Homo sapiens: one gene and its partners. The protein of the gene in region 7 purifies or fractionates together with the protein of the main gene of each other region. This does not show direct contact. Each region holds a gene or a part of one and is shown on either strand. Other genes may lie near its edges. The genes, in order: KCTD5, CUEDC1, KCTD17, NEDD4L, YAP1, GLMN and ARRDC1.

Region 1 (3,500 bases), on a different chromosome or scaffold from region 7:
TCCACGTCTGCTCCGCACGCAGCAACCGTGCAGCCCTGAATTCATCGGTCGGGAAAGGCTCTGGCAAGCAGGGCCCTGAGAGCCAGTGCCAGACGAAGCTCGCTCCCAGCTACCAGAAAAAGGCTCTTGAACTTGCGCGGCAGCCTGGACTTGGGCCTCCCGAAGGCTGAGCTGCTTCCTAAAACTCCATCCACCTCCTAATCCCCCACCTGCCTGGCACGCTTGCTGTGCCCCTCCAGGCAGCTGTGGTCCTGGGAGTGATGGTGAGCCACCAGGGCCGCCCGCCTGCATGGAGCTGCTCCCCAGTGGGCGGGGTGGCCCCACATCCTGGACAGTCACTACGGAGGACTCAGGCTGCAGACGGGGCTGGACGGAAACGCAGCAGTGAGAAGGGGTTCAGAGGTCCTGGGTCCCTGACCTTAAGGTGGTGACTCATGCCAGGGATGCCTGAGTGACAAAGGCACACAGTGGCCTCGAGGTCACATGCCCGAGTTGCTTTATTCTGCAAGACAGTGAGATGCTACTGTGTCACAGCAAGGCTGGACCGCAGACTCTCCCACCTGCACCATTTCCTGCCCACCTGCGTCATACAGGTAGGTAGACTGAGGCAGGGAGTGCCCACACAGCCCGGTCACACAACAGGGAAAAAAGCAGACTGGACAAGGTGACCCGGGGCGCGGGACGCAGCTCCTGCCCCACAGACAAGGAGCCCCTCCAGATCCCTCAGTGGCACCAAGGGAGCTCCAGCAGGAGGGGGAACTGGGCAAGTCGCTAGGTGGCCAGCGGCCCTGAGCGGCCAGGCTAGGAGCGTCTGCACAGGGCCCAGGGCTCTACGTGGACCGAGACTTCTGATGGCAGCCGCGGCCACAGTGCGGCACACACCCCACTCCTGGTGCCTTCTCAAGGGAGCTGAGCTTGGGTGGGGGGGGCGGGCTCAGCTCTCAGGGACGGGACTGATGCCCAAGGCCCAGCAGTGGCCCCTCCACAGGAGGTACTGGGCAGAGCCCACCAACAACCTGGGCTCCCCTGGCTGCAGAAGGGCCGTGCCAGCTGTGAGAGGTGTGTCTGTGGCGAGCCGCCCCTCTTCCCAATAAAACCAAGGTCCTTCTGGCGCCTGCGCAGACCCACACGACCCATCTGCTGTCTCCCTCCAGCCATGCTGGCTGCAGGCCCTTGGCACCCTCTGCTCCCTACCAGATGCCATCCACCTCAGGGTCTCCCCGACCGGCCCTCATGGGGCCCTCCTTCCCTACACACGTCTCCCGTGCCCAACTTCCTCAGAGCCATCCTTTGGGGGCTCCCAGAGTCTGGGCCGGGCAGGATGAATGGATCCTTCAAGGGACCCTGGGGAGAGCCGGGTAGACGGAGCTGGCAGGCACTGGGGCAGTGACAGAGGACAAGGGTCTCAGGGTAGGAGAGCCCCAGACCGCAGGACTTATTTGGGAGGCAGCCGGTCGGGGGAGTAAAGGGGAGCCCTTCCTTCACACCAGCCATACAAGCTTCCAGCCTCAGTCATTTGTCTCACCTGCGATGTTTTGCTGTCTCGTTCTCTAATTTTGTCCTTTACAAGTTTTATTAATGAGGTGATATTGTAAAATTCTGCTTCCTCCAACACTCCTGGAATAAGGAAAAATAAATTGTCTTTACCAGACCAAACTAAACCAAAGAATCCACGCTTTACACCCACCCCTGCCCTTGCCCCTGCCCCTGCAATGAGGGCCCATGGCTCGGCCCAGCGGGAGCTGCTCAGGCCCCGACCTAACAGGCTTCCTGCAGACGTGTCAGCCCAGCAGGGCTCCTGGGATAATGGGCGGAGGGGCCGTGGTGAGAGGGCCGATGTGTGGACTGAACACCTCCAGCTCAGGTCACCCCAGGTAACCTTGAGTGACCTCCAGTGACCCGCCAGGTATGGAGCCGCTGCTTACATGCAGCTCAGCGTATGTCTACGCCGAGGCCATGGTATGCTGGGGGTTGGATCTGGCATTTTCCCTCCAAGCCTGGAGGCCGACGCTTCCTGCTGGGAACCTGCTCATGGCCACGCCACTGGGTGGGGTGCTGTGTGGGGCTCAGGCCTGCGGCCTTGTGCATATGTCTCAGTCACCTGGCACCTCAGTTGACCCCATTCAAAGGGAAGACTGTGGCTGGCTGAGAGGGTCACTTCCAGCTCTTCCCAAAGACTGCCATCCGTAATGTGCCGCACTTAGGGACTGCAAACCTCCCTTAAGAGCCTTAAGAGCAGATTCCACAGGTCCTGCCTCAGGGCTTCCTCATGGGTGGTCTTCATTCCTCCAGGACCCCAGAGGAACCCACATATGGCACATGGCAGCTCAGGACAACACCCAGCCACCTACATGGGACAGGGCCACGCAGGATAGAGACAAGGAGACGAGGGCCTCAGAGACACAGGCTTCCCGGCCCCGCATGGGTCCCGCACAGCCCCCTTCTCTAGCACCCAGGGCGTGAGTGGCTGCATCGGGGCGGGATAGAGGCAGACCGGTGAGCCTGGGCGGCAGGGCCTTGGTCTGTGTCTAGCGCCCGTTTCTGAGCCAATCCCACTAGGGGCAGAATGAGATAAAGCGAAGCCTCGACTCGAGCGGCTCCACGACAACACAAGCGGCTGCCCAAGCGACCAGAGAGAGTACATGTGAAAGACATTCCCTGCCAAAGAGACAGGAGTGGGGATCATGGCTCACAGCCTCAGAGCAGGGGCAGGGCTGGGCCACAGCCCCCGTCACTCCACGCCCCGCGTGAACTCGGAGGAGGCAGGCAGATGCCGAGGCCCAGAGGCCCAGAACAGAAACGGAGTCAGACGCTGCCCAGTGCAGACCGATGCGCAGACACGGACCCGGGGGAGCAGGGCCACGCCCGCACGCAGGTGCCCAGAAACCCTCAGCCTTCACGGCGAGGCCTCGAGCTGTTCTGAGCCAAGCCAGCACCGCAGCACACAGGCAGGCCAGCCTGGGCCCAACGCGTGTGGGCGCCGTCCCTGCACCACGATCACTCAGAATGGAACACGGCAGCTGGCAGCAGCAGGCACAGTCCAGGTGATGGCACAGAGACATTCACCACCCTTGGGCTGTCCTTGAGGGAGAGCAGGCCAGGGAACCAGGCCCTGAAGCACGCCGTGGGCATCACCGGGCATGTGCCTCACACACCCGCTCAGACCACCTCAGTCACAGCAGGGAGGAACCCCTCACACCCCTTGTGTCGCCAGCCGGAGCCTGGACAGAGGGAGCCCTCCAAGGAGCTGCAGCCAGGGAGGACCCCACACCCACAGGGTCCCCAGGCCTCCCTGTCCGGCAGCTGCGCCGCTGCCCGTGGCCTCAGCACCAGAACGTCGGCCCCAGCTTCAGAGTACAGGGCCTGCTCCTCCCTGGGGCCCCAGGCTGCAGGCATCTGTGTCTTAAGTGGAGCCCTTGGCACCTTTGTCGGGCCCTTGCCCCCAAAGCTAAGGCACCTGTGCCCAAAACTCGGCTTACCTTCCTCCGCGAGGTCTTTGT
Region 2 (3,500 bases), on a different chromosome or scaffold from region 7:
GGTGCAGCGGTGCCGCAGGTGTCACCTCGAGAGTGCAGTCGGAGAGCGCCGCGGGTGAATGGGCCAGGCAAGGCAGGGGTACCCTAGGGATGCGACGCGGGGCTCCTGGGGACAAACCCTGCCCCAGGCCGGGAGGGAGGAGGGAGCAGGAGGGTCCAGCCCACGCCGCTGGCCACATCAGAGCACCAAGAGAACACCAACTGTTTATTACAGGAATTCCTATGAAACAGCTCCAAGAAAAAACCCACACATAGGAGGAAAAAAAATAACAAAGCAACACTCAACAGACATGGGGCTGGGGCTTCCCCCACAGTGCGCCGGGTCCTGGCGCGGGGAAGGCTCAGAGACCCGTCGAGAACTCGAGCTGGGGTACCGAGGCACTCCTCGGAGACCCCCCCCCCTCCCTCCAGGGCCCCAGGCCTGGCGCGGGGAGCAGCGGAGGGGGCGACCGCTCCTCGGCAGGGCCCCCCGAGCCAGCGTCCCGGCCCCGCGCGCGTTTCCAAACTTGGTCACGCTCGGCGGCGGCTGCGCGTCCCGGCCCTCCCCAAGCTCGGCGTTGCGAGTCCGGGCAGGGTGGGCGGGACGAGGTGCGATCGCCGGCTCGCCTTCGCTACGCCCTTGTGATCTTGGGGCCACGGAGGCCACCAGGGCCCGGCCAAGGATCGGATGCCACTCCCAACCTCCCAGAGCCGCGCCGAAGCCTCGTGCCTGCCCAGGCTTCCCGGCTCTCCGGAAGGTCTGCGCGCTCCCATGTCCAGGGCGGGGCCACGGGCTGGGCAGCCTCCCTCCCCGTGGCAGTGGTCAGTGCCGTGTAAGCGTTCCTAGAATCAGAGTTCTCCTCCTCAGATCACCCGCCCTTCTCAGGGGCACCCAGCAAGCCCTTATGCCCTAGGCGCTCACCCAGGCTGGCGGCCTTTCCGCCTTGCTCTTTAGCCCTGCACCTGCTCAAAGGGGTCACTCCAGGACCCACCGCTGCCCACCCTCGGACAGCAGGGCTTCCAGTCCAGCTGGGGAGTCAGAGCCCCTGTGAGCCCCTACTGTGGTGTGACTCCAGAACTGGCTTTTGTCTGCTGCCAAATTAAAGACCCTGCCTCCCCAGAGTCCTCCAGCTCCAGGGTGGCCACCCTCCCCATCCCTGCTGGGTGACCGGGAGCTGCTGGGAGTGAGCCCATCCCTAACAGCAGCAGCCTGATGAGGCCAGACGGGGCAGGGCAGTCGGCAGATGCTTTGCAGTAGCCCATAGCTCCTCAGAGTTCCTGGGGGACTGGCCAGGGACCTCCCACCCAGGCTGGGTGCAGGGCTCGTGTGCTGGGCCAGCAGCCCCGGGGGAAGGCTGAGATACAGGAGGACATGGAAGGGAAGGGCACAAGTGCCCGGAGGGAGCTGAGGAAGGGGGACCAGAAGGGAGCTGAGGAAAGGGGGTCAGGCAGAGTCTGTGACAGGAGAGATAGAGAACGGACGGAGGCAGAGACTCCACCTTCAGGCCAAAGAGCCTCTGGTGGGGGTCATCTTGCCCTTTTCCATATTCCAACTTTTATCTGCTTTCTGGATTTTTTTTTTTTTAAAGGGAGGTTGGTTCCTGCATTTCCACTCTTTGACCATAGGAACGCCTGGCTACAAAAGGGGCTGTAATTGGCTGCTGCCTATAGGGGCCCCAGGTCCTTCCTCCAATTGCAAGGCAGCAACTCCGAAGTTCTAAGTCCCATGGAAAGTGGCAGTGGTTGGGCTGGACTGTGGCTGGAGGATCACCGGGCCTCGGTTCTCAAGCACCATCTGTCTGGCTGCAGCTGGGCCCTTCAGCTGGGGGCCAGTGTTGCTTTCCAGCTGCCCCCACCGGGTCAGATCATCTCTGGCAAGGAAGAGCTGCTGGCATCTGGTAGGGGAAAAAAGGGATGGGAGGAATCTTTTTCAAAGGAGCCCAATGGTCTTTCCTGGTCACTGGTTCCTGGAGAGACAGTTTTGGGAGAAGTTACTAAAGACGTAAGCCCTCTCCTTTTTCCAGGGACTCGAGGTCAACCGTAGAACTCTGCCTGGGTCATCCCCCCATTCAAATTCCTAGAACCATTCCAGCTTGCCCAGCTGCAGGGACTCTGGCAGCAGGAGATGGAGTGAAGGAATGGAATCCCGGGGTGAAGCAGCTGTAGGGGAGGGCTTCAACGTGGGAGGGTACCTGGCCCATTCTAATACGTCATAGCTCAGGGGAGCTAGGCCACAAAGACCTGTAGGTGGAGAAAAGTAAACTGGGGGCAGAACTTGGTAGGACTCAGACACCAGGCTGAAGAGTTCCTAAGACTTTACTCAGAAGACTCATTCAGGCCAGGCGCAGTGGCTCACGCCTGTAATCTCAGCACTTTGGGAGGCTGAGGCGGGCCGAGGTCAGGGGTTTAAGACCAGCCTAACCAGCATGGTGAAACCCCGTCTCTACTAAAAATACAAAAATTAGCCGGGCGGGGTGGCACGTGCCTGTAATCCCAGCTACTCGGGAGGCTGAGGCAGGAGAATGGCTTGAACTTGAGAAGGGGAGGTTGCAGTGAGTGGAGATTGCACCACTGCACTCTAGCCTGGGCAACAGAGCGAGACTCCATCTCAAAAAAAAAAAAAAAAAGAAAGAAAAGAAAAAGAAAAAAAAAGATTCATTCAAAGAGCACAGGAAAAATGGAACTAAAGTGGTGTTTTGGTGGTGGGATAATCAGAGTAGGTAGGGGCAGTGAAGAGAACAGGGCTGTGACCTAGGTGATGAGCATCTATCAGGGTGGTAATGGAAGGAATAGAAAAGAGAATGAAAGGGGGCAGTCAGGAGGAGAGACTGAGTTGCTATCCAAGGCTGAAAAGAAAATCTTGGGTGCAGCTGGGGACACGAAGCAGCTCTGGAAGCCTAACTGCGATGGAGATTCAGATGTAGGAGCCAGATGCGCAGAAGTGTTGCTGGTGCTATAAAAGAGGGCGGAGGCACTGCCAGAGTGGGCAGTGAGAAGACTTCGAAGAGGGTCAAGGGCAGAGCAACAAGGAGAGCCAGTATTTAGGGAGTGGGCGGAGCAACAGGAGCCAGGAGAGAGGAAGGAGAACCTGGCTTCCTGGGGTCACAGGAGCCAAGGGAGGGCAGCTTCAGGAGAGATCAGGGGAGTGCGTGTGGAAGAGCACCATAAGAATGCAGAAGATGCTAAGGCCCTGAGCTGCTGGGTGACCTCCGAGTCAATCCGAGTGATGGGAGGGGCTGTCAGCCTGCAGTGGATGAAGGAGGATGGCAGGGAAGACTCAAGGACCCTTGGTGTTTAAGGGGAGGAGGAGGAGGATGTCAACTTGCAGAAGGAGCTGGAAGGGGACAAGCTGGAAGTCCTAGGACAGAAATAAATGATGAGGTGCAGGTACGGTGGCTCACACCTGTAATCCTAGCACTTTGGGAGGTCCAGGCGGGCAGGTCACCTGGGGTCAGATGTTCGAAACCAGCCTGGCCACATGGCAAAAATCCATCTCTACTAAAAATACAAAAACAAATTAGC
Region 3 (3,500 bases), on a different chromosome or scaffold from region 7:
CTTCTGCCTTGCAGTCTCCATGTGCCAGGGAACGTGTGGGTGGGCGTGGAGAAAGGCTAGCCAACCCCCTCTCCTTCTCTAAAGGCACTTTTGACCCTGGGCTCACTTTCTGGCTCTGCTCCTCTGGAAACCTGAAAGGTGGGAGGTCAGCTGCATGACTAGGGATAAAGTCCCTCGGGATAAGGATCTCCCGATGGGTAAACTGCATCTGGACTGGGAGGAACCACCGTTCACCATAAAGACCTCATGGGAAGGCACTGCTTTGGGCTCCCCTGCATGTTGCAATGCTGGCCACTGGGCATGTCCCCTGCGGAGACCCTGAAAACTGTGTCAGGAACTGCTATGATCGCATGATGCTGACTCTGAGTTCTAAGAGGTACTGACTCAATGTGGACTCCACTCACCTATGTGGATCTGGTCTCCTTGCACCTGAGCTGTCCTTCGGGGGCCACAGACTCACTCATGCCACCAGATAGATCACCACCCAGTTGCTGTGAGGACTCCCACCAACAAGGACACCCCGTGCTGTCCTATGGCCACTGGGGCTCCTATCCTCTCTCTCGGTCAACCTGCCACCAAGTGTGGTCTCTCCTAACCTTGTTTAATTTGATTTCAGAAGAACCCTGGGGTTGGGGGAGACTGTGGTGGGGAACCCAAGGCTGGGGCTGCAGGAAGGGAGGGGCCTGCTTGGTCAGAGGCTAGGAGGTCCCAGGGTTGTCCTGGTGGCACGCCCCTGTCCCCAGCGCACCTGCTCGAAGCGCCAGCCATCAGACATGGTGGAGACCATTTGCGTGAGCTCCTCCTCCTGGCACTGCAGCACGCGGTACACGTGCTTGGGTGGGACCTGTGGGCAGAAGGGTCACATAGAGGGCACCTGTGGGAGCACCAGGCACCCCAGGAGGGGCATGAGCACCTGCTGCCACCACCCCCGCAACATACCCAAAGAAGAAGAGAGGGAGAGAAAGAAGAGGTGGTTGGGGGGAGGCAGCCATGCTCTGAGCACCTGCTCCTCACCAGGCATTTACCAGGCACCATCTCACTTAATCCTTCCAAGAATCCTAGGCATTACGGGACTTTCCATTGAGGCTCAGAGAGGTCCAGTTACTTGCCCAAGGTCACCCAGCTCAAGGGTGAAGGAGACAGAACCGGAACACGGGTAATTCAAGAAAGAACATGGGTGGGGCTTAGGGAACATTCTGGGTCACCCTCAAGGAGTCAGGCCCTCAAGGAGACACGGAGCCTCCCCTCTTTAATCCCCTGGGCCTGAGAAATGGTTCCTCACTACCTGTCCCCCAACCCTCACACATCCCCCAGAGTAGGCGGAAAATCTCTTTCCCTCCTCCTGCAGACTGGCCAGGGAGGCCCAGGCTCCAAGGTCACAAACGCCAGCCCCAACAGCCTGTGCCGAGCCCACCAGGCGACCATCTGATGCCACAAAAGGCACAATTTGCTAATCCTGCATTTTCCTCTGCAGGGCACCCTGTACCTCCACACTGACCCCCTTCTGCCTATGAGGAAGGGATGGGTGTGCCATTCCCACCCCTCTCTATCCCATAAGAGAAAATCAAGGTCCGGAGAGGGCGAGCCTGGCCCAACACACAGCAAATGGGGCTGAGACAGGGACTGAACCCCAGTGTCCGTCTCCGAGTCTGGGGCTGTGCTGGGCAGCCTGTCAGCCCAACCATGCCTCTCCTTACAGGCCAGCTCGGCCTCCCCATGACAAACACTGGTCCTGTCTCTCCCAACCTCCTCTGCTTCCCGCCCCGTCTCTCAGCCTCTCTCTCCCCACTGGCCCCTGCCCTGGCCGTGTGTGCTGCCCCTGCTCCCGACCTGGGTGACCGTGTAGTCCTTCTCTTCCATCCGGTCTTTGATGATGCGGATCAGCGGGCCGATGTTGTAGAACTCGGCTTCCTCCAGGACCCCTGGCACAGACAGAACAGATCCCAGGTCACTCCTTCTGCCTCCATGCCCCATTCTCCTCTTGTTCCCTCCACCCCGAAACCCACCTCTCGCTCTGATCACCCGCCCTGAGGGTGAGCTGAGTGTCTGTGAGTTCAGGGGTCAAGTAAGAGGGAGCATTTCTTTCCTTGGATCCCACACTTCCTGTGGAAGGGGCTGAGGGGCTGCCACACAGCTCTGCTGTGCTGAGTGCGGTGACCCAGGGGTACCTGCCAGGCCACCGTCTGGGGCAGCTTTAGGGCTATCAAGAGACAGCAGGGTCATTGGGACTGATCCCCAGAATGTCACCATGAGCAGGGCCTTGCCTGACCCCTGATTATGTGCTCCTATTTATTAAGCACATTCTAAGTGCCAGGTGCATTACATTTTTGAATTCTCAGAACTAGAAGGAGGTACTTTCATCATCTGCATTGAACAACTGGGAAAACTGAGGCTCCCAAAGAGAAGCAGCTTGTCCAAGGTCACACAGCTGGTAAGTGCCAGAGGGAACTCAAGCGCTGCAGACTCCAGAGCCCATGTCTCCCCACTGTAAGCACATACCCTTGTGTCCATGCATTCCCCCAACTGCCTCACCTTACAGTTTGCAACACCCTGCACGAGCTCATCACAAGTCCAGGGATATGAGGAGAGCAGGCATTACTGTCCCCATCTTACAGTTAAGTTAATCTGGGAGATGAAGAAGTCAGCCCACCAGTGAAGCGATGAGCTTGCAGCTGTTTCGACTCCCCTAGGCTCCCAGAAGGCAGGGGACCTTTGGGCCCTTTCCTTGACTGGCCTCTGGGCTCCCTGGGGACAGAGCTCATTATGAGCAGAATGTGTGTGTTCCCCAAAAATCCACCTGCTGAAAACTGTGATGGGATTAGGAGGGGAGGTAATGAGATCATGGGGGTAGAGTCCCCAGGGTAGGATCAGTCTTCTTATAAGAAAGGCTAATTGGATGTGAGGGCGATCTGGCGGGGACATCTGTCACTCCACTGATCACCAGGGTTGATTTAGCTGATCTGGCTGGCTAGATGTGTGTCCCCTTCCTCCCTCACTGCTCCAGGTGTGTCCCTCCCGAAGCTGTGAGCTCCATCGAAGGGGGCGACCACCCCCGATAGAGGAGGACCGGACTTTGGTCAAGGGTATGTGAGTAGCTGCGCTCCCCTGCTAGAACCTCCAAACAAGCTCTCGAGAAGGGGCGGGCGAGGGCTAGCTCCCTCTCTTTCTGCCATGTGAGGACACAACGAGAAGTCAGCAGTCTGCAATCCGGAAGAAAGTCCTCACCAGAACCTGCCACAGTGCCCCGATCTCGGGTTTCTAGCCTCTAGGACCAAGAGAAATAAATTTCTGATTTTCATAAGCCACCCAATCTATGTTACTTCATGATTGCAGCCTGAAATGGCTAAGATGGGGCTCACATTTCTGATCTGCCCTCTGTCCCCGGTGCCCACACAGGACCAAACACAGAGCAGGAGGTCAGGGAGTGCAGCTGCCTGATTACGAGAATTATCCCCAGTGCCCTGGGCGGAGCCCTGCAGGTGACAGACAGCTAGCACTGC
Region 4 (3,500 bases), on a different chromosome or scaffold from region 7:
TGTGGGACACAAACACATTTTTTCCCCATTACTAAATAGTACTGAGTGCTTACTAAGCAAAGTAATTCTCTAAATAGATTAGGGTTACTTGCATTTTCTGAAAAACCAAAGTAACTTCCAGCATTAAGAAAAAAAGAACTTATACATGTAAATAAAACCCATTCAACACGAACATCTTCAATTAAACAAGAAAAATTAATAGAAAGGGTCTTCATCTCCTACATTACCTCTGACCCAAAGTCTGCCCTCACCGGCCTCCTCACATTAGTGACATCCAACACTCACTTGCCAAAACATAAAACTAAAACTTAACATCACATAGGTCAGGTAAAAGAAATGATTGGCTTTGCATTTTCCAACATTCATTCATAACAGATGTTCAAAGGGGACAACTCAGTGCAACCTCCGGTCAGCTAGGGCAGTGTTGGCCATGGTTCCCAAGTGCACTTCTCAGTATTACAACAATCTCAGCATTTACCCACAATGGGAATTCCAGCTTTACAACACACTTTTAAATATACATTATAAGACATGATCCAAAACTGCACCCAAGAGACGAAGAGCTAAACCTTGAGTCAGGTTGGAAACTGGAAATTAATTAGAATGTAAAAATTGTTGGCCGGGCACGGTGGCTCATGCCTGTAATCCCAGCACTTTGGGAGGCCGAGGCAGGTGGATCACAAGGTCAGGAGTTCGAGACCATCCTGCCTAACATGGTGAAACCCCGTCTCTACTAAAAATACAAAAAAATTAGCCGGGCGTGGTGGTGGGCACCTGTAGTCCCAGCTACTTGGGAGGCTGAGGCAGGCGAATGGCGTGAACCCGGGAGGCAGAGCTTGCAGTGAGCCGAGATTGCACCACTGCACTCCAGCCTGGGCGACAGAGTGAGACTCCATCTGGAAAGAAAAAAAAAAAATTGTTAACACAGGCAAGACCAGGAGCTGGAGATGCAAATCAGGCCCTTGTCACTGCACTTCTGGATCCCCTCAAAACAGGGAACACGGTCTCTGCCTGGTAGACAGGAGATGGAAACATGCCGGAGCCACTCAAGCAATCCATCTACATGTCACTTCAGTGTGCCTGGGAAACCATTGGTCCACTGCAGCCCAAACAAACAAAGTGACAGGTGATGGGACATCACCCAAACCAGCAAGAGGACAGTTCCCTTGGTTTGTTCATCCTCTTCATGGGACCACCATCCTTACAAGCCTTTCCAAGTTCCACCTTCACAGAACAGGTTTCACATCACAGCTTTTTTTTGAGACAAAGTCTCACTCTGTCACCCAGGGTGGAGTGCAGAGTTGCAATCTCAGCTCACCACAACCTCCATCTCCCAGGTTCAAGCGATTCTCCTGCTTCAGCCTCCCAAGTAGCTGGGATTACAGGGGCACGCCACGACGCCCAGCTAATTTTTGTATTTTTAGTAGAAACGGGGTTTTGCCATGTTGGTCAGGCTGGTCTTGAACTCCTGGCCTGAAGTGATCTGCCTGCCCTGGCCTCCCAAAGTGCTAGGATTATAGGCATGAGCCACCATGGGTGGCCACATCATAGCTTTTTAAACTTAAAAAAAAAAAAAAAGAAAAACTCACTTTTGAATGGCCCTTTTCTTTTGGTGAATAGGAGGTATAAAAAGAATACAAAATCTCTTGGTAGATGTCTGCCTGCCAAGAAGTCACCAAACACTGAATTTGATGACAGCAAGGGAATCTGAGAGCCTTGACATTTAACTTGGTGCGTTTTGAATCAATGCAGGACTGAAGTCAGGGACAAAAAGTTGACTGGAGTGTCAAATTTAAGCTAGTTACCCCAGATACACTTATATAATAAGGCTTTTCTCACCTAAAGGGATTACAATAATCAGCACTCCAGTTCAAAACAAAATATTACAATCATAGTGAGATTCTATTATTCATGAAACAAGAGGCCCAGATCTTTACATCGCCAACCACCAAACGCCCTGCTACAACTTCAGCCACGGTCTTGCATCAGGAATCAAGAATGTCTCTGCTAATCAAACACCAGTAGTTGTGATAATTATCAGCTCCTTCTCAGAGTAACAGAAAGTTACAGAAGGGTCCACACAGCAGAACTAGGACTATTTAGAAAGTCTCTACTAAATCTAAATCTAGTTTCTAGTTTTCTAAATCTAGTTTTTTTTATTCTCAACTCTAAATTATGCTATCATTTCCATATTCCAGCAACAAGCAACACCCGAGCCAACAGTAACATTAAACAGTGAACAGCACAAACATTGCCACCTATAGTCTGAAAATGAAATACATTTGAAATACAGTTGTGACCTGGAAGAGAAACAATGTAAAAACAGAAAGTAACATTTTGTCACACTTCTTCCACCCTTCTTTAATCCTCCTGCCCTGATACTTATTACCATTATATTATTTATATATTATTCTAATCCTCCTTAGCATGGACTACCAAAAGATCAACATATAGTTTGCTTTATCGCTAATTAACAAATATTTCAGTAAGACAGACCCACTTATTCAAATACCTGCAACATCAAAAAGCTTGAAAACTCTTAAGTTAGGATCTCTTTTTTTCACTGCTGCTACTCATCTAAGACTGGAAATTCAAGGGCAACAATAAAATCTGTTTAATGCAGATCTTGTAACTCAAAATAAAAAATTTAATTGGCTCTTAATCTATCACACATTGCCATGTTTTCATGATGCCATTTTAAACACCGCACAAGCAAACAGGTTATTAAATTAGCAATGGGCATAGTTGCTTCCTTTTGAAATGAATGCAAAAGTAATTTAGCAGAAACTCCAATGTACTGCTGCAATAATGTCACACTCAATCATTCTTAATATTTTTAAACAGTTTTATTCAGATGTAATTCATACACAACACAATTCATCCATTTGAAGGGTACAAAACTCAATGACTTTTAATATGTTGGGAGTTCTTCTTTGGGGTGATCTTTGTTTGTTTGCCTTTGTTTTCTGAGACAGTGTCTTGCTCTGTCACCCAGGCTGGAGTGCAGTGGCATGATCATGGCTCACTGCAGCCTCAACCTCCCAGGCTCAAGCCATCCTCCCACCTCAGCCTCCCCAGCAGCCAGGACCACAGGTGCGTGCCACAACACGCAACTAAGTTTTTGTATTTTTTGTAGAGGTGGGGTTTCACCACATTGCCCAGGCTGGTGTCAAACTCCTGGGCTCAAGCAATCTGTCCACCTCGGCCCCCCAAGATTATTCACTTTTCTTGGGAAAATATACCAGATATATTGAGGTACTCCAGAATCCCAAAACAAACTTTCCCAAGTAAGCTTCCTGGTGATGTGGGCACACACTGCATTGAAGAAATGCCTGAGTACCATGCAATGGTTTTCATTTGAATTGCATTCTGTAATGGTAAAGAAACTACAGTCATCTGAGGATCACCATTTGTCACTGTCCTCACCCTTTAAGCAAAACTATTACTATTCTTTTTTTATTTTTTATTTTTAGTTTTGCTCTTGTTGCCCAGGCTGGAGC
Region 5 (3,500 bases), on a different chromosome or scaffold from region 7:
ATCCTGTGCTTTGGCATAGAACTTGAGGCTGCTTCCTTAGTTTGTCAAAGAACCATATTTTGGAGTATCATTTTCTGAGCCCCAACAAGTTCCTGACATCGTATGTTGGCACATACTGTCTTACTCCTTCTATCAGGGTTTACCTTTGATGCCAATCACACTAGAATTGTATGGACAGATTACCGACAAAGCACAGTTTCAACGTGAGCCTGTCTCAGATGCCATGGCTTAATTTAACTCCTGAAGTACCAATTCCTCAAACCCCAAATCAGAGTTCAGGTAGTACTGAGTTCACATATTTTCACTGACACTCAAGAGATACTTTTAAAATACAGCCCTAAAAAAAACCCAAAAAACAAAAAACAGACCTTTAGGTGCCTCCTTCCTGGTAACAGAAATGTAGAGCTTTTTTTTTTTTTAAGAGACAGAGTCTCGCCATGTTGCCCAGGCTGGTTTCGAACTCCTGGGCTCAAGCAAACCTCCTGCCTCGGCCTCCCAAAGTGTTGGGATTAGAGGCATGAGCCACCATGCCTGGCCGAGTATGACGATTTTTAAATGTCTATACTTAGCATGCTGTGATTTAGCTAGGGAAAAAATGGCACAGATACATGTATTTTATGTATGTAAACAGAGTATCTCTGGAAAAATTAACAAAAAACAAAAAACCTAAGAAACTCATAGTTATTTAGGCCCCATAGGAGAGAACTAGAAAAACAGGGAAAAGATCTTATTTTGAGTGTACTTTCACCTCTGTACATCTATCACTAGTATACCATTTTTCTATTATCTATTCAAAAAAATTTTATATGGAAATTTAAAAATATCTACGCTACTTAACAAAAGACCTTATCTCCAATATCTGAACTTAGTAGATTTAACCACTCTGAAATAAGATAAAGTAAAAATTAATGTTGAGATTAATTATATATATTAGGAACATAAAAACCAACAGTACCTTCTGGAAGAAAGCTGATGGAATTGGTGATTAAAGGGCTTCAAAGCTCTCTACTATGTCCTACTTTCCCCAAAATAAAAAAACATCCATAAGCAGGTAATTTTAAAGCACACTGGCATCTTCTAAACTTGAAGATAACTTTTTGTTTTTGAGACAGAATCTCACTCTGTCACCCAGGCTTGAGTGCGGTGGCACAATCTTGGCTCACCGAACCTCTGCCTCCGAAGCTCAAGTGATTCTTGTGCCTCAGCCTCCTGAGAAGTTGAGATTACAGGTGTGTGCCACCACGCTTGGCTAATTTTTTTATTTTTAGTAGAGATGGGGTTTCGCTAAGTTGGCCAGGCTTGTCTTGAACTGGCCTCAAGTGATCTGCCCACCCTGGCCTCCCAAAGTGCTGGGATTACAGGCATGAGCCACCGCACCTGGCCAAAGGTAACATTTATTTTGTTTTCAATGAAAATTCTTAGATTCGGTAATACCGAAGTATATTTGTCATTTGAGAAATGTCATATTGGTGTATCCCGCCACGTAAGTTATTAATAAAGGATGTTTTCTCCTGAGTGATGTTCTAGAATTTCCCCTTTAGTGAAATCCTCAGAAAAACAGCAATCCACAATTCCATGTACATTAGAGAAAGCATCCTTGCTTCCTTCAATTTTTGCTCAATTGCAATGACCATGACCAAAACAGCTCTTCATGATACAGGTTTCCAAGTCACATCCCTTGTAACTTGATCAAAGGCCATTCACAGTCACAAAACTAAGACAAGGACAGGGCTGGATAGAATGCTTCTGTGTCACTCAGTTTTACAAAGACAACATTCCTCTGTAACTAATAAATGTTAAAATGAAATCTGCCCAACTTTAAGAAAACAAACCCCCAAAAGTGGAAGGCTGGTTTCTAACCTGTGGCCTCACCTGCCGAAGCAGTTCTTGCTGTTTCAGCCGCAGCCTCTCCTTCTCCATCTGCAGTTGCTGCAGTCGCATCTGTTGCTGCTGGTTGGAGTTGCTGCCACCCATGACGCCTCCCTGTGGGCTCTGGGGAGCCAGGGGTGGTGGCTGTTTCACTGGAGCACTCTGACTGATTCTCTGGTTCATGGCTGAAATGAAAAGAAAAAAAAAATCTGTCCTAAAAAACTAGTGAAGGAAGATAAAATGATGATTTAATTATTCAAAAGCAATTTGGGATATTCGATGTAACTTTTTTGGGCAGGAAGACTGGAAATAACCTAAAAATCCATCAATATCACAATGACTACATTAATTTATTATTACTGTTGTCACAAGATACAAGGAAGTCATAAGAGAAAAGAAACAAGACGTAGTTTTAACATGCAATAAGGAACAGTTTCTAAGGACTTACTAAATTAAAAGCAAGGTGCAGAAGAGAAAGTGTTTAAAAAAAACGGGGTGGGGGAAGGGAGCGGGGGTGAATATATTGCATATTCAGAGGATATAAAAATTGATGAATAGCTAAGAAGCAACTAACATCTTTTGGCTCCAGAGATGGGAAACTGGGTGACTAAAGGACAAAGGTGGAGAACCTTATTTATAACTTCTGAAGTGTGAATGATGCAAATTCATTACTTCTTATGAAATATATAAATTAAAAATTCATCCACAAAAATTAAGACAAAGCATTCCAAACAGCAAAGCCCATCAAAATAATCAGCCCTTAATATATCCACATACACATCCCAATAAAGCAAGTAGATTAAAATGATCTGATGCTTGCTCATATCAAATTGAGTCCACAAGTATCTGGATGACATGGATTTGTCTCATTTGACACCATGGTAACCCCCAGCACAAAGCCTAGGTAGTAAAAAAAAAAAAATTTTTTTTTGAAGCTGTAATACACCATTTGGTGGTTAGAAATGGACTGGGTTTTTATACTAGTGAATTTCTGTCACTGATACAACACTGATCAAACTGTGAATTAACCTCAGTGAGCAGAGGGAAGTTTTATGTGAAAATGTTAGTAAGAATAATAAACCTTTTCAGATACATATTCAACTTAAGTTGAAATTTTGGGTCACTGTTTCTACTAAATGTTTAGTACACATTGACTAAAGAAAACCCCAGGTCCCAATGGCTTTGCAGTCATTCAAGGAAGAAATAATACCAGTCTTACACAGCCTCTTCCAGAGCATAACAAGGAAAGAATACTTTCCAACACTTATAAGGCCAGCATAACCTTGATACCATACAAGGATATTAAAAGAAAGGAAAATTACAGGCCAATCTCTCATATAAACCTTGCTACAAAAATCCTAAATAACATACACTGACAGCTCTTATAACTTAATGGTCTCCCAGTCACACAGCAAACTCCTTGTGATTTTTAATGTGTCCCATTATAACAGACTGGCTGCTTGGTAAATGCCATTTCTTCTTGGAGACTACTTGAGCAAAACCTCACAAGGCTGGGCCCATCCTATACATTAAGAATTTTCTTCTCTCAAGGAATTGCCTGGGAACTTTTCCATATTGTCTACTGACATTTATTGCCTGATTCTAATTTTTTACTTACAAATTTATATGCT
Region 6 (3,500 bases), on a different chromosome or scaffold from region 7:
ATTTACATTGCTGTATGTTTTCCCATTCACACGGGGTAAAAGTTTTTCTAGGATACTGTTTTTCAAATTATTTTTGCCATGACTCTCAGTAAAAACTAGGTTTTACATCACAACTCACACGTTTATTTATATAGTTGAAATAAAAGTTTTCCCTCAAATCCTTTCCATATAACACATTTAATCTTAATACTTTAATGTAGAAAAATGGAGAATAAACAATTCAAAAGTAAACATCAGAAAGATTTTTACATAATCAGTGTGCTTGCCTGTTCATGAGGTAATTTCAGTCTAATTCACTATTGAGCCTAGTTCTTTTCTTTTTATTATTTTTCAAAGTCAGGTTTGTTGAGATATTGTTTACATACAGTAAAATATAACCTTCTAGCTATACAATTCTGAGCTTTGACAAAGATATATAGTGATATAAAGTCATGTAACCACTGCTGCTGTAAAGATATTCCCATGACCCAGAAATTTCTTTGTGCCCCTTTGTAGTCAGTTTCCTCCCACCTCCAGCAACCAGCAATCTGATTTTTGTTAAGGTAATTTTTGCCTTTTCCAGAATGCCATAAGTGGAATTAAAACTCTTTGTGGCAGAAATTGACAAAATTCTAAAATTTATACAGAAAAGGTAAAGGATTTAAAAATAGCCAATACAATTTTGAAAAAGAAGAACAAAGTTGGCAGACTCACATTACTTGAGGTCAAGACTTCCTATAAAGGAATAAAACAGAATAATTTCTTCCTATAAAGGAATCAAGACAGTGTGGTATTGGTAAAAGAATAGATACAGGTAAATGGAATAGAGTCCAAAAATAGACCCATACTTATAAAATGATTTTTGATAAAGTTGCCAAGATAATTCAGTAAATTAAGGATAACCTTTTCTACAAATAGTGTTGAGGTCAAAATAAAAGAAAAAAAAATCTCTCAACCCATATCTCATATCATAAAAAGTTTACTTGAAATGGGGTCATTGACCTAAGTGTAAAACCTAAAACTATACAATTTCTACAAGAAATTACCTTTGTGATCTGGGTTAACAAAGACTTCTTAGAACCCATAAATAATGAATCATAAAAGAATAAAATTGATAAGTTGGACTCCATAAATATTAAAATTTCTGTTCTTTGAAAAATACTATTAAAACACAAGCCACAGACTGGAATATTTGCAAAAATATAACCAAAGAATTTGTATCCATGAAAAACTTTCCTCTTGTAGAAGTTCTAAGTTGAAAATTTTTTTCTTTCATCCTTTCAGTTTTACTTTGTAATGGAAATTCTTTTAAATCTGATTCCCAAAACTTTTTTTTTTTTTTTTAAGATGGTGTCTTCTTGCTCTGTTGCCCAGGCTGGAGTGCAGAGGCATGATCTGAGCTCACTGCAGCCTCCACCTACTGGGTTCAAGCAATTCTCCTGCCTCAGCCTCCAGAGTAGCTGGGATTATAAGCGTCTGCCACCATGCCCAGCTAATTTTTTTGTAGTTTTAGTAGAGATGGGGTTTCGCCATGTTGGACTGGCTGGTCTCTAACTCCTAACCTCAGGTGATCTGCCCGCCTCAGCCTCCCAAAGTGCTGGGATTACAGTGATAAAGTTTTATAATCATTCATTGGTACAAATATACAATTAAGCTTCACTAATTCTCTTCAGCCAAAAATTTTAACCAAATTACTAAATCAGGACTTTAAAAAGCAAATGTATCTCTAACCAAACGTTTTCTTTTAATGTTTCAAATTTCTCAAATGGAAATAATCACATATTAATAAAGAGTACTGGCCCAGCGCAGTAGCTCATGCCTGTAATCCCAGATGGGAGGATCACCTGAGTACAGGAGGTTGTTATTGCAATGTGCCGTGATTGCGCCACTGCACTCCAGCCTGGGCTATAGAGTGAGACCCCAACTCAAAAGGAAAAAAAAATTAATATAAATTTAAATAGTCACATGTGTCTACTGTCTACTGTATTGGACAGTGCAAATCTAGATCTTTGAATGTTAAAACCTTAGCTGTTTTCAATGGCAATAGCCCATAATCATAAAACTTCAGGTAATAAAAACACATGCCAAAAGTAGCCTAAAGAAATTTTTTACATATTCTGTTCAGCATAATTCCACAAATTTTTCAGATGATAAACTGTAATATTTTTAGAAGCATGTAGGAGTGAAGAAGCTGTGAGAATAAGAATATTTTTTCTCTCAAGGTTACCAGATCGTTTTTAAAGAAATAATAAATACTACAAAGAAAATCACATTTTAAGATTTCTTAAAATCTTTCAGTGTCTAGAAAAAGTAAATTAAGAGTTTTAAAATAGTTATAATTAAAAATTTGAAATGTTCACAAATACCTGCTTTTAATTTCATACCCAAGGAGGCTTACTGATTTCCAGTTCTAAGGCTTAAAACTATACATTTCAAAATTCACTGTAGCATATCTCTCTCACAAAAGGAAGACTAGGCAGTTCTACACTACAATGAAATTTATTGCCAGAACAGTCAGGAACCCTGCAAAGAATACAGTCAGTGATGGTAATGAAGAAATAAAAAGCCATGAACAAGACCCAGGTTTCCCCTTTCTTCTAATTCATATAGAAGTCATCCGGCTCTGCAAATATTTCATGGATATGTTTTATCTTAGAGAAAGAAACAACTTACACAATATGCCCCTGTACCAAACCTGCACCCCTGAATCTTAAATAGAAATGGAAATTGAAAAAAAACTTAAGCTCTAGATTCCTCCTCTCTCTGGGCAGGGCATCTCTGAAAGAAAGGCAGCAGCTCCAGTCAGGGGCTTATAGATAAAACTTCCATCTCCCTGGGACAGAGCACCTTGGGGAAAGGGTGGCTGTGGGTGCAGCTTCAGCAGACAAACATTCCTGCCTGCCAGCTCTGAAGAGAGCAGCAGATCTCTCAGCACAGCGCTTGAGCTCTGCTAAGGGACAGACTGCTTCCTCAAATGGGTCCCTGACCCCTCGTGCTTCCTGATAGGGAGACACCTCCCAGCAGGGGTCAACAGCCACCTCATACAGGAGAGCTCCGGCTGGCATCTGGCGGGTGCCCCTCTGGGATGAAGCTTCCAGAGGAAGGAGCAGGCAGCAATCTTTGCTGTTCTGCAGCCTCCAATGGTGATACCCGGGCAAACAGGGTCTGGAGTGGACCCCCAGCAAACTGCAGCAGACCTGCAGAAGAGGGGCCTGACTGTTAGAAGGAAAACTAACAAACACAAAGCAATAGCATTAACGTCAACAAAAAGGATGACCCAAGCAAAAACTCCACCCAAAGGTCACCAACAGCAAAGACCAAAGGTAGAAATCCACGAAGACGAGGAAAAAGCAGCGGAAAAGGGCTGAAAATTCCAAGCACACGAACACCTCTTCTCCAAAGGATCACAACTCCTTGCCAGCAAGGGAACAAAACTGGACAGAGAATGAGTTTGATGAACTGACAGAAGTAGGCTTCAGAAGTTGAGTAATAACAAACTCCTCCAAGCTAAAGGAGCATGT
Region 7 (3,500 bases):
GATCAGAAGATCATGGCTGGACAATCAGGTCCAGCAGAAGCTGGTCACAAGGGAGGACAGACGCAGCAGAAGTACACACAGCACAAGACCCAGGTGGGCAGGGGTTGGGGGAGACAGTGGCAGGCCACCTGCACCTCCAGCCCCTCTTCTCCCTGCAGGGCTGAGTCAGGGCCAAAGATGGCCACCTCCCTGCCTGGTCCTGGTGGGGGTCACGTGAGGAAAAGGTGACTCAGACTCTGACACCTGCTGAGGGAGCAGCCAGGCAGGAGGAGTACCGGTGTGCCGAGCGCCCAGGGTCAGCCATACCTGCCTCACCTGTGGTCTCCCCAGCAGGCCCCACCTGTGGCCCAGGCCTTCTGCCTGCCACCCAGAGCAGCAGGATTCCTCTCACAATCCTTGGCTCAGCCGCAGCCCCACGTGGCTCTCCACATGCATCCTGCCTACCCCTCGGCAGCTGCCAGGCCCAGTCCCCCATCCCTGAGGGTGGCCCTTGCTTCCTGCTGCACGCCCTCTACCCCCGGGCGCTGCCAGGGCCTGTCCTCAGCCTCCATTCCAGCCCAGCCTTGCCACCCCAACCTCGGTCCATTTTTTGTTTTTTTGTTGTTGTTGTTGTTGTTGTTGTTTTTGAGACACGGTCTCACTCCCGCCGCCCAGGCTAGTGTGCAGTGGCACGATCTCGGCTCACTGCAGCCTTAACCTCCTGTGTTCAAGCGATCCACCCATCTCAGCCCCGCAAGTAGCTAGGACTACAGGCACGTGCCACCACACCTGGGTTTTGTTTTTTGTTTTTTGTTTTTCTTATAGAGACAGGGTTTTGCCATGCTGTCCAGGCTGGTCTCAAACTCCTAAGCTCAAGCAATCCACCTGCCTCAGCCTCCCAAAGTGTTGGGATTACAGGCATGAGCCACGGTACCCAGCTCTGCTCTGATTTTGAATCCATGCTCTGTTAGCCAGGCCCTCCTCGGGCCAGACCCCATACTGTGTTCATGCTGAAAATCCGGAACACCAGTAATCCTCCTGTGGACCAGCAGACAGCCCAACAGAAGCACATGGGCATGAGCAGGCACAGAGGAGGGTGGGCGTGGCTGAAGCAAGGAGAGGAGGCCTGGGGACTGGAAATGCTGCCGTGCTTTTAACACTCCTGACAGACTGCACATCCCCACCTTGAATCCCGCAAATGCTGGGACCCAGCTGGGTGCAGTGGCTCACACCTGTAATCCCAGCACTGTGGGAGGCCAAGGCGGGTGGATCACTTGAGGTCAGGAGTTCAAGACCAGCCTGGCTGACATGGTGAAACCCCATCTCTACTAAAAATACAAAAAAGGCCGGGCACGGTGGCTCATGCCTGTAATCCCAGCACTTCGGGAGGCCAAGGCAGGCAGATCACCTGAGGTCAGGAGTTCCAGACCAGCCTGACCGACATGGAGAAACCCCATCTCTACTAGAAATACGAAATTAGCTGGGCATGGTGGCACATGCCTGTAATCCCAGCTACCAGGGAGGCTGAGGCAGGAGAATCGCTTGAACCTGGGAGGCGGAGGTTGCAGTGAGCCGAGATCGCGCCACTGCACTCCAGCCTGAGCAACAAGAGTGAAACTCCATCTCAAAAAAAAAATACAAAAATTAGCCAGGCATGGTGGCACACGCCTGTAATCCCAGCTACTTGGGAGGCTGAGGCATGAGGATCACTTAAACCCAGGAGGCAGAGGTTGCAGTGAGCTGAGATCGCACAAATGCACTTTAGCCTGGGTGACAGAGCGAGACTTCATCTCAAAAAGAAAAAAAAAAGAAAAATGCTGGAACCCACAGAGGATGCCGGAAAGGGGGCAGTGGTCCCCAGACTAACCCGTATGCCAGCCAAGCACCCTCAAGTGATCCCAGCTGGTGGCACAGAACTGAAGATTAACCCTGCCCTCACTGTCCAGATTCCTAACCCACAACGCTGTGAGATATAATAAAATGGTTGTGTTAACTGTTTTAAGAATGGTGTCTGACTTGAGGTGACCGCGACTTTTACGTAGCAGTAGGTAACTGGAACAGATGTCCAACCTCACTAGAAATTACAGAAAACCCGGCCGGGCGCAGTGGCTCAGCCTGTAATCCCAGCACTGTGGGAGGCCGAGGCGGGCAGATCACGAGGTCAGGAGATCGAGATCATCCTGGCTGACACGGTGAAACCCCCGTCTCTACTAAAAATACAAAAAATTAGCCGGGTGTGGTGGCGGGCGCCTGTAGTCCCAGCTACTCAGGAGGCTGAGGCAGGAGAATGGCGTGAACCCGGAAGGTGGAGCTTGCAGGGAAAGCCCAAATGACCTACCATTTCAATCCATCAGATTGACAAATATTAAATGTCTCGACACAGCTGGGCGCAGTGGCTCACGCCTGTAATCCCAACACTTTGGGGGGCCAAGGCGAGCGGATTGCTTGAGGCCAGAAGTGTGACAGCAGCCTAGGTAACACGGTGAAACCCCATCTCTACCAAAACTACCAAAGATTAGCTGGGTGTGGTGGCGCGTGCCCCTGGTCCCAGTCACTCAGGAGGCTGTGGTGGGAGCCCCGGAGGAAGGAGTTGCAGTGAGCCAAGATTGTACCACTGCACTCCAGTCTGGGTGACAAAGTGAGACCTCATCTCAAATAAAATCAATGTCTTGGGGCCAGGCACAGTGGCTCACGCCTGTAATCCCAGCACTTTAAGAGGCTGAGGCGGGCGGATCACCTGAGGTTCGGAGTTCCAGGCCCGCCTGACCAACACGGAGAAACCCCGTCTCTACTAAAAATACAAAATTAGCCAGGCCTGGTGGCGCGTGCCTGTAGTCCCAGCTACTCGGGAGTCTGAGGCAGAAGAATCACTTGAACCAGGGAGGCAGAGGTTGCGGTGAGCAGCTGAGATTGCACCACTGCACTCCAGCCTGGGTAACAAGAGCAACGTAAATAAATAAATAAATAAATAAATGTCTCAACACACGTTGGAGGGAGGTGGAACACAAACACCCCTTATTCCAGTCAAACTGCAGACAAGTACGAGGTTCTGGCAAAGAGTGGGACAGGTCTACTGTAATTTTACCTGTGCATACCAGGAGACCCAGAATTCCGCTTAGAATCTCATGGTATTTAACCGGGAGCCTCACACGCCACTGCTCCTACTAGCAAAGCATCGCGAAAACCGTCATGGGACATTGACTCCACAAAAACAAACAGTATGCAACTGACCCTTGGGTCATCCTAAGGGTCCAGGTTCTGTGATCTTCCCAACGCCCATGCAGATGGCCCCGTTTTGCACATACACCAAGGCTCTTTGAGATGACTCTGCCAGAGTAAGCAGCCTCCAACCACTGTCCAAAGTGAAACCTGTCCCGAGCTGCCCCACACACTCCTCAGTAAGAACACGGGAGGCAAGGGGCTCCCGCACAGCTGCCAGCTGCTTCCCTGCCAAAACACCTGGAGCTGCTCCTCTGCCTCTCAGCAACTGCTTCAGGTCAGGCTGGGTGAATTTCCCAGGG

Evidence for each region.
Region 1: the proteins of ARRDC1 (region 7) and KCTD5 purify together in Homo sapiens (affinity purification with mass spectrometry; 3 studies listed by BioGRID and IntAct, with this or other methods). This does not show direct contact.
Region 2: the proteins of ARRDC1 (region 7) and CUEDC1 purify together in Homo sapiens (affinity purification with mass spectrometry; 4 studies listed by BioGRID and IntAct, with this or other methods). This does not show direct contact.
Region 3: the proteins of ARRDC1 (region 7) and KCTD17 purify together in Homo sapiens (affinity purification with mass spectrometry; 4 studies listed by BioGRID and IntAct, with this or other methods). This does not show direct contact.
Region 4: the proteins of ARRDC1 (region 7) and NEDD4L purify together in Homo sapiens (affinity purification with mass spectrometry; 5 studies listed by BioGRID and IntAct, with this or other methods). This does not show direct contact.
Region 5: the proteins of ARRDC1 (region 7) and YAP1 purify together in Homo sapiens (affinity purification with mass spectrometry; 5 studies listed by BioGRID and IntAct, with this or other methods). This does not show direct contact.
Region 6: the proteins of ARRDC1 (region 7) and GLMN purify together in Homo sapiens (affinity purification with mass spectrometry; 3 studies listed by BioGRID and IntAct, with this or other methods). This does not show direct contact.

Annotation. Positions count from the first base shown.
Region 1 is NC_000016.10:2,696,023-2,699,522, reverse strand, and holds part of KCTD5 (BTB/POZ domain-containing protein KCTD5), read right to left. Parts: coding exon 3,480-3,500; intron 1,618-3,479; coding exon 1,526-1,617; intron 1-1,525. UniProt on the Homo sapiens protein: Its interaction with CUL3 suggests that it may act as a substrate adapter in some E3 ligase complex. Does not affect the function of Kv channel Kv2.1/KCNB1, Kv1.2/KCNA2, Kv4.2/KCND2 and Kv3.4/KCNC4.
Region 2 is NC_000017.11:57,861,413-57,864,912, forward strand, and holds part of CUEDC1 (CUE domain-containing protein 1), read right to left. Parts: intron 1,874-3,500; 3' UTR 1-1,873.
Region 3 is NC_000022.11:37,054,742-37,058,241, reverse strand, and holds part of KCTD17 (BTB/POZ domain-containing protein KCTD17), read right to left. Parts: intron 1,923-3,500; coding exon 1,831-1,922; intron 845-1,830; coding exon 749-844; intron 1-748. UniProt on the Homo sapiens protein: Substrate-adapter for CUL3-RING ubiquitin ligase complexes which mediates the ubiquitination and subsequent proteasomal degradation of TCHP, a protein involved in ciliogenesis down-regulation.
Region 4 is NC_000018.10:58,050,726-58,054,225, reverse strand, and holds part of NEDD4L (E3 ubiquitin-protein ligase NEDD4-like), read right to left. Parts: intron 1-3,500. UniProt on the Homo sapiens protein: E3 ubiquitin-protein ligase that mediates the polyubiquitination of lysine and cysteine residues on target proteins and is thereby implicated in the regulation of various signaling pathways including autophagy, innate immunity or DNA repair.
Region 5 is NC_000011.10:102,204,447-102,207,946, reverse strand, and holds part of YAP1 (transcriptional coactivator YAP1), read right to left. Parts: intron 2,055-3,500; coding exon 1,873-2,054; coding exon of another isoform or gene 1,861-1,872; intron 1-1,860. UniProt on the Homo sapiens protein: Transcriptional regulator with dual roles as a coactivator and corepressor. Critical downstream regulatory target in the Hippo signaling pathway, crucial for organ size control and tumor suppression by restricting proliferation and promoting apoptosis.
Region 6 is NC_000001.11:92,250,488-92,253,987, forward strand, and holds part of GLMN (glomulin), read right to left. Parts: intron 1-3,500.
Region 7 is NC_000009.12:137,608,686-137,612,185, reverse strand, and holds part of ARRDC1 (arrestin domain-containing protein 1), read right to left. Parts: intron 1-3,500. UniProt on the Homo sapiens protein: Functions as an adapter recruiting ubiquitin-protein ligases to their specific substrates. Through an ubiquitination-dependent mechanism plays for instance a role in the incorporation of SLC11A2 into extracellular vesicles.